2 linked regions of the Homo sapiens genome follow. The protein of the gene in region 1 interacts with the protein of each later gene in a pairwise test. Each region holds a gene or a part of one and is shown on either strand. Other genes may lie near its edges. The genes, in order: SSH1 and YWHAB.

Region 1 (3,767 bases):
ATTAGCACATTTAGTCCTGCTAGGTAAGTCTTTCTTTTTTTGAGACAGCCTGGAGTGCAGTGGCAGTCATGGCTCACTGAAGTGTTGATCTCCTGGGCTCCAGCAATCCTGCCTCAGCCTCCCAAGTAGCTGGGACCAGAGCCACACACTGCTGCACCCAGCTAAATTTATTTATTTATTTATTTAAAAGATAGGGTCTCACTATGTTGCCCAGACTGGTCTTGAACTCCTGGTTTCTGATGATCCTCCTGCCTCAGCCTCCCAAAGTGTTGAGATTATAGGCATGAGCCACTGTGCCCAGCCCCTTCTAGGTAAATCTCTATGGGGTGCCAAATTTTGGTTAAGAATTGCTTATTGAATATTAAAAGTTTAGTGGGATGCTTCTTTTTTTTTTTTCTTTTGAGATGGAGTTTAGCTCTTGTTGCCCAGACTGGAGTGCAATGGTGTGATCTCAGCTCACCGCAACCTCTGCCTCCTGGGTTCAAGTGATTTTCCTGCCTCAGCCTCCCGAGTAGCTGGGAATACAGGCATGTGCCACCACGCCTGGCTAATTTTGTATTTTTAATCGAAATGGGGTTTCTCCATGTTGGTCAGGCTGTTCTCAAACTCCCAACCTCAGGTAATCCACCCGCCTTGGCCTCCCAAAGTGCTGGGATTATAGGCATGAGCCACCGCGCCAAGCCACAGGATGCTTCTAATAGTGTTATCAAGCTATAATGCAGCCCTCTCTGTAAAATGTTTTAAAAACAAATCACTGAGGGTCATGGTTCAAGACACTGTTCTCTGGCAAGGTTGAAGATAGCTAACAAATTCTCTTTGGGTTCCAGCCATGAATGGGGTGGGATGGGCCCCAGCAATCTGTATGTTTCTGAGATTCCCTGGGAATTCTGATGGCCAAGTTTAGAAACCATCAAAATAAGAATATGATGCAACTGAGTAGGCTCACGCTTTGCTAATTACATTGCACACATGCTTTTTGGAGACAACACCCACACTACCCTAACAATGTGTGTTCATAAAACTCATCCGATACTTATTTGTTCAAGGCCCTAGGACAATATTCCTGTAATGGGCTGCTTTTGCCCTGATTTCCTCCTCAGAGTAACTGTCTCGCGGTTGGGCACGATCCCAGATCACATCTACAGTGGAGGTGGTTTTGCTGGGGAGGATCCGCATGCTTGTTTGTGTTTATGCCTGGGGAACCCCCTCTTGGCAAGATGTTCGGGAGAGGCTCCAAAGGCAGCACAGAGGACGGCTTGGAACTTAGGGGGATTCACTTTATGGTAAAGAAGCCCTTTCTAAAGGAGAGCTCCACCCAGGAAACACCACCCACCCACGCATCCTTGCCTCCTAAAACCAGGTTATGTTTATCACATACCTTCTATGTGCTTTACATAAAGAATCCCCTGGAATTCTCCAAACTGGGCATTGTGGTCTGTGATGCATATCTCAAAAGAGGTGAGAGGGTTGGGCACGGTGGCTCACGCCTGTAATCCCAGCACTTTGGGAAGCCAAGGCAGGTGGATCACTTGAGGTCAGAAGCTCAAGACCAGCCTGGCTCACATGGTGAAACGCCGTCTCAACTAAAAATACAAAAATTAGCCGGGCATGATGGCGGGCGCCTGTAATCCCAGCTACTCGGGAGGCTGAGGCAGGAGAATCGCTTGAACCCAGGAGGTGGAGGTTGCTGTGAGCCAAGATTGCACCACTGCACTCCAGCCTGGGTGACAGAGTGAGACTCTGTCTCAAAAAACAAAAAAAAGAAAAAAAAAGGTAGAGGAGAGTCCTTTTTCTAACTTTCTTGAACTCTTTGGACTACCTTGGGATCCTTCTATTAACTGCCTTGTTGGCATTATTCTCAGTTTATGAAAAAACAGGCCCACAGAGTGGAAGTAATTTGCCTACAGGTACATCTAAAAATTGATGAAGCCAGATAGGAACTGCTCCCTCATCATCTGAAACCCTTCCCAGAGCTGTCTCTCCCACCCCAGAAGTAGAAAGAAGCCAGACAAAGATGCATCTTGATCTCCCTTGTGGTTTCAGCAAGGAAGCAGATGAGTTGGAGATGAAGCCCCCAGCCCCTGGGAAATTGGACCCACTTCTTGCTCCAAAGGCTATTGGGGTGACACAAGGTGTGTTTCTTTCCCGTAGATCATATTCACCATATTTTGCCTTTAAATGGAAATTGTGCATCCTGAAGTACCTTGTTAAGAGTCCATTTTCAACCTGAAATTCCTTTTTTTTGTAAACCACTTCAGCAAATACAGTGTGGCATTTACATTAGCAACCTCCCAGCCTAGGAGAGGATGCTCCAGCATCCGACTCTAAAAGACAAATTTGGGCACGGTGGCTTGACGCCTGTTATCCCAACACCTTGAGAGGCCGAGGCAGGCAGATTGCTTGAGCCCAGGAGTTCAAGACCAGCCCAGGTAACATGGTGAACCCCCATCTCTACCAATAATACAAAAATTAGCCAGGCATGGTGGTGTGCCAGTGGTCCCAGCTACTTGAGTGGCTGAGGTGAAGGATCTCCTGAGCCTGGGAGGCAGAGGTTGCAGTGAGCCGAGATCGAACCACTGCACTCCAGCTTATGCAACAGAGCAAGACCGTGTCTCAAAAACAAATAAAAATAAAAGATTTTAAAAAGACAAATTATCCCACAAATGGTACATTGTGGTGGTGGTGGTGGTGGTGGTGGTAGACCTCCCTCTTGCTCTTGAAATTGGATCAGAACAAACTGACAATGCTACCTACTTCATGGGGTCATTGGTGAATTCACTGATAATGCATGCAAATCCCCTTCTGCCTGGCACACTACCTAATAAATAAATGGTGGTTGTTATTGTTGGAATTGGAGGATATATTCCTAGTTGCAAGGGTTTCACATGTATTACCAAGTTAATCCTCACCGCAGATATGATTCTGTTTTACAGAGGAAGCAGTGGATGCTCAGAGAGGTTAGGTAACGTGGGTCAGGGACACACAGCCAGGAAGGGGCAGAGGCTGGGAGTGCCTGACTCCAAATTCATGCAATTTCTACCCCACCATCTTCTCCCCAAGGAAAATAGTCCCTAATGCATGTGTGCAATGCTTAGAGGGCAGTAGATGCTCAACAGATGCTGAGAGAGTGAGGGAGTAAATGAGATATGCCATGAAAAGGAGCCCCTGTGGACTTATGCGTGCGTTTGTTTAACTTGTGGGCAAGTACTTATAGACAGGTGCAAACAATAAATCTCCTTTTGCAACTGAGAACTTGTTGTTCAGTATGAGTTTTGATACATATAAGAAAGGCTATTATGATACCTAAGACAGTTAACTAAGGGAGGGAGTATTGATAACCATAAGTGTTAGTTGCAGGCTGGGCACAGTGGCTCATGCCTGCAGTCCTCTCACTTTGAGAGGCTGAGGTGGGAGGATTGCTTGAAGCCAGGAGTTCAAGACCAGCCTGGGCAAGAAAGCAACACCCCATCTCCACAAAACTTTAAAAGTTAGCTGGGTGTGGGGGCATGTGCCTATAGATGTAGCTACTCTAAAGGGGAGGCTGAGGCAGGAGGATTGCTTGAGCCCAGGAGTTGGAGACTGCAGTGAGCTTTGATGGCACCACTGTACTCCAGCCTAGTCAACAAAGTAAAACTTGTCTCTTAAAAAAAAAAAAAAAAACAAAAAAAAAGGTTCTAGGACTGTAGAATCATTAGCTTAAAAGCATAGGATTTGAGGGAAAACCTCAGTTATATTAATTTCGTATTCCAATTTCATGTTGACTTGAT
Region 2 (3,820 bases), on another chromosome or scaffold:
TGGCCTCCCAAAGTGCTGGGACTTACAGGCGTGACCCACTGCACCTAGCCAATGCCAGTATTTTCAAAACAAATTCTTTCATTACTACATACATGGTATCACAATTTAAGGCTCTGAAAATGATTATTTGTTTGGAGACGGAGTCTCATTCTGTCACCCAGGCTGGAGTTCAGTGACGCAACCTCGGCTCACTGCAACCTCTGCCTCCTGGGTTCAAGCGATTCTCCTCAGCCACCCGAGTAGCTGGGACTGCTGGCATGCACCACCACACTCGGCTGATTTTGTATTTTTAGTAGAGGTGGGGTTTCACTACATTGCTCAGGCTGGTCTTGAACGCCTGACCTCAGGTGATCTGCCTGCCTCGGCCTCCCAAAGTGCTGGAATTACAGGTGTGAGCCACCGCACTTGGCCTCTTTGCTATTTTTAAATTAACCATTTTCTGCTGGGCGCAGTGGCTCATGCCTGTAATCCCAGCACTTTGGGAGGCCGAGGCAGGTGAATCACGAGGTCAGGAGATCGAGACCATCCTGGCTAACACGGTGAAACCCCGTCTCTACTAAAAAAACAAAAAATTAGCTGGGCACAGTGCACGTGCCTATAGTCCCAGCTACTGGGGAGGCTGAGCAAGAGAATCGCTTGAACCCGGAAGACGGAGGTTGCAGTGAGCAGAGATCGCGCCACTGCACTCTGGCCTGGGCAACAGAGCAAGATTCCATCTCAAAAAAAAAAGGAAAAAAAAAACAAGAAAGTATGACCTCCACTCACAAAATGATTTTGCCTCAAAAGTCATTTCTGTATTTTCAAGAGAGAAATTCTACACACAGGGCCTTATCACCTAAAAATGTTTTAGGGAGCACAATAAGATACACTCAAAATCTAGGTGATTCAGAAAGAATTGATTCTCCAGTTCATAACTATAATTTTTCTTCCTACTGCTTATTATCTAAATCACATGCAGAGCTGTGTCTTATATAAGGCTCACTAATTGTAAGCTTACACTCAGTGAGGCAAGTCTCACTTTGATCCATCTGACATCTTCACTCACAACACTAGAATAAAACTAAGGCAGAGAGAGTAATCCTCAAGAAACATTCCATTTGTTCCCTTCTATTTCCCAGAACCCCCACAGCAGTCAGAAGAGGCCACATGGTAGTTCTGTCCAATGAAAGATAAGTAGAAATGACGCTACTTCCAGGCTAACACTGTGAATATCCTACGTGTGCCTCCCCAGGCTCTTTTCCCTCACAGCAGCCACTGAGAAGGCCATGTATTCTAGGTGGTACAGTCATGCAACTGTAGAGTTTTTGTCAGCCTGAGTCCCCGGGTGACTGTATAGTGCAAGACTCCTGCAGACCTGCATTGGACACGCAGGGTGAAAACAAAAGAAACTTTTGCTGGGTTAAAACATTGAGATGCTGGAGCTGTTGGTTACCACAAGACAACCTGTTCTACTCTAATACAAGTACATCAAAAATACTCTACCATCTTAAAAGTATATATAGTTGGCCCTCCATATCTGCAGGTTCCAGATACACAGATTCAACCAACCGTGGTGGAAAATAAAGAAGGAAAAAAACACAAAATAAACAAGTATCTTCAGATTTTGGTATCCCCAGGTGTCCTGGAACCTACACCCCCTGGATACCAAAGGATGACCACTGTCTTCATATATCTAACTTTCTTGACCATAAGGTCTTTGAGATCAGGACAATAAATATCTTCATCATTAAATAACCCTACTTCATGGTTTCTAAAAGTGCCAGGTACACCAGAAAGAAGCCAACTTTCAATGACCCAACAACCTTCAGAAAATTTCCAGTCTGTAGACTAACTCAAAGTTAGAAGTCACTTAGAGGCCCACTTCAAAGTTCATAGAACAGTACCTATGCAACTCTACCTGTGGATTACTCCAAATCATAAAGTACTGGCCAAAAGCCAATTCAGAGCTAAGCCATCCCATGTGGTATCATAATGGAGTAATAAAGGATTGCCGTTGCTAAATAATGCCATCAACCTCTTCAGCTCTACTAGGCCCCAAAATTAAGCTATCCCCCTTTTACTTCTCTCCTTCTCAAGGATTAAAAGTTAAATCATACTACTCCAAAGAATCTGGACTATTCAGTGGGACCTCCCAAATATGCCTTCCCTATTTCCCAAAATAAAATGCACCCTTTCTGTTTGGGGTCAGCTATTTTAAGCTTCTCCGAGATTACTGCAAGATTTCTTAGAGATTGAGAACCATCATGGCAAGATAAGGACTGAATGCACACCTTTTTAAAATCTGTATCCATTTATCTGTTTCAAATATTTTTAATTATACACATACAGAAACAACTTACAACAAACAAAATCCATAGCTAAAGGTCCTGATGGCTACTGCTTACATAACTTTTGACTTATATAACATGGATTTTGAAGCAACTAGACCAATTTCAACAGGAAATGGGTTACACAACACCCAGCAGTTTGGAGGAAGGCAGCAAAGGAGAAATGAAATTGTTCCTATTTCTACATCTACAATAAATCTCCCATCCAAAATCTTGCCCTAGTGGCAATGCTTTCAGTCACTCATTATCTACAGCCCCCTCCATGCCTTTGCTGTAAGACCCATTTTCCTATAACTCTGCTCAAGTCACTTCCCGCTCAAAATTCTTTAAAGTTCCCTGATGCCAAAAGCAGAGTCAGATTTCCTCCCCTATCAGTGAAAGCTTGCCAACCTATCTTCCAGACCCCCACATCATGCCTTCCACATCATATGTGCTTCTGCCAAAATGGTTTTCTTACATACAAAGTATGCTTTTCTATCTTTGCTCACCAAGCCACTCCCTCTACCTGGAATGGCTTTTCCCAAATTTACTCTGCATACAAGATTCTTCACAGTGTGGCTCAGATACCATCCCTTCCATGAAGCCTTTCTTAAGCTGTTTAAGCCATAGCCATAGCTACATGTGGCTATTCACTTAAAATGTGGCTAGTGCCACATATTGAAATCATATTTTGTTCATAATGGGTTAAGTAAAAACAGATAGAATCAATTTCACTTTAAAAAAATTTTTAAATGCAGCTACCAGAAAAATTTAAATTACATGTGGCTTATATTCTATTCCTATGGGACGGCATTGCTCTAATGAATATATTCTCACAAAGCATTTCGCTGATACCTGTCAATGTCTTACCACGTTTCTTCAGTACTAAAATTACTTACATAGTGTCTCCTATTTCCCTTCCTACACCATAAGCTCCTTTGGACATATCTCCCACAGCATCCTGTACATAATTGGTAGGAACAAATATCTGCTGAATGAACAAACTGATCCTGAAATGTAAGCATAAAACTGCAGAGTTGGTAGAGTTCTCCCTTTTCTCAAATAATTCAAAGCACCTATTAGCCTCACAAGCATATTAAATCTTCATTACATTTGTACCTAGTTTCTTGAATTTCTGTGCCCTCTGAAATTCAAAGAGTAATTCACTCTTCCAGTCAGGCATGGCAGATCAATCTATAATCCCAGTGCTTTTGGAGGCCAAAGCTGGAGCATCGCTTGAGACCAGGAGTTCAAGACCAGCCTGGGCAACATAGTAAGACCTTGTCTCTACAAAAAATAAAATATTAGCCAGGTGTGGTGGCTCATGCCTGTGGTCCCAGCTACTTGGGAGGCTGAGATGGGAGAATCGCTTGAGGCTAGGAGGCCAGGGATGCACTGAGCCATGACTGCATCACTGCACTCCAGCCTGGGTGACAGACACCCTGTCTCAAAACAAACAAAAAATTACTCTTCCTAAATTACCTCTAGTCTTGCCTTTGTCCTTACTCAGTAAC

The links.
Region 2: the proteins of SSH1 (region 1) and YWHAB interact in binary tests that used the Homo sapiens proteins (3 or more experiments, as listed by UniProt).

Annotation. Positions count from the first base shown.
Region 1 is NC_000012.12:108,777,673-108,781,439, reverse strand, and holds the end of SSH1 (protein phosphatase Slingshot homolog 1), read left to right. Parts: 3' UTR 1-3,249; downstream 3,250-3,767. UniProt on the Homo sapiens protein: Protein phosphatase which regulates actin filament dynamics. Dephosphorylates and activates the actin binding/depolymerizing factor cofilin, which subsequently binds to actin filaments and stimulates their disassembly.
Region 2 is NC_000020.11:44,895,426-44,899,245, reverse strand, and holds part of YWHAB (14-3-3 protein beta/alpha), read right to left. Parts: intron 1-3,820. UniProt on the Homo sapiens protein: Adapter protein implicated in the regulation of a large spectrum of both general and specialized signaling pathways. Binds to a large number of partners, usually by recognition of a phosphoserine or phosphothreonine motif.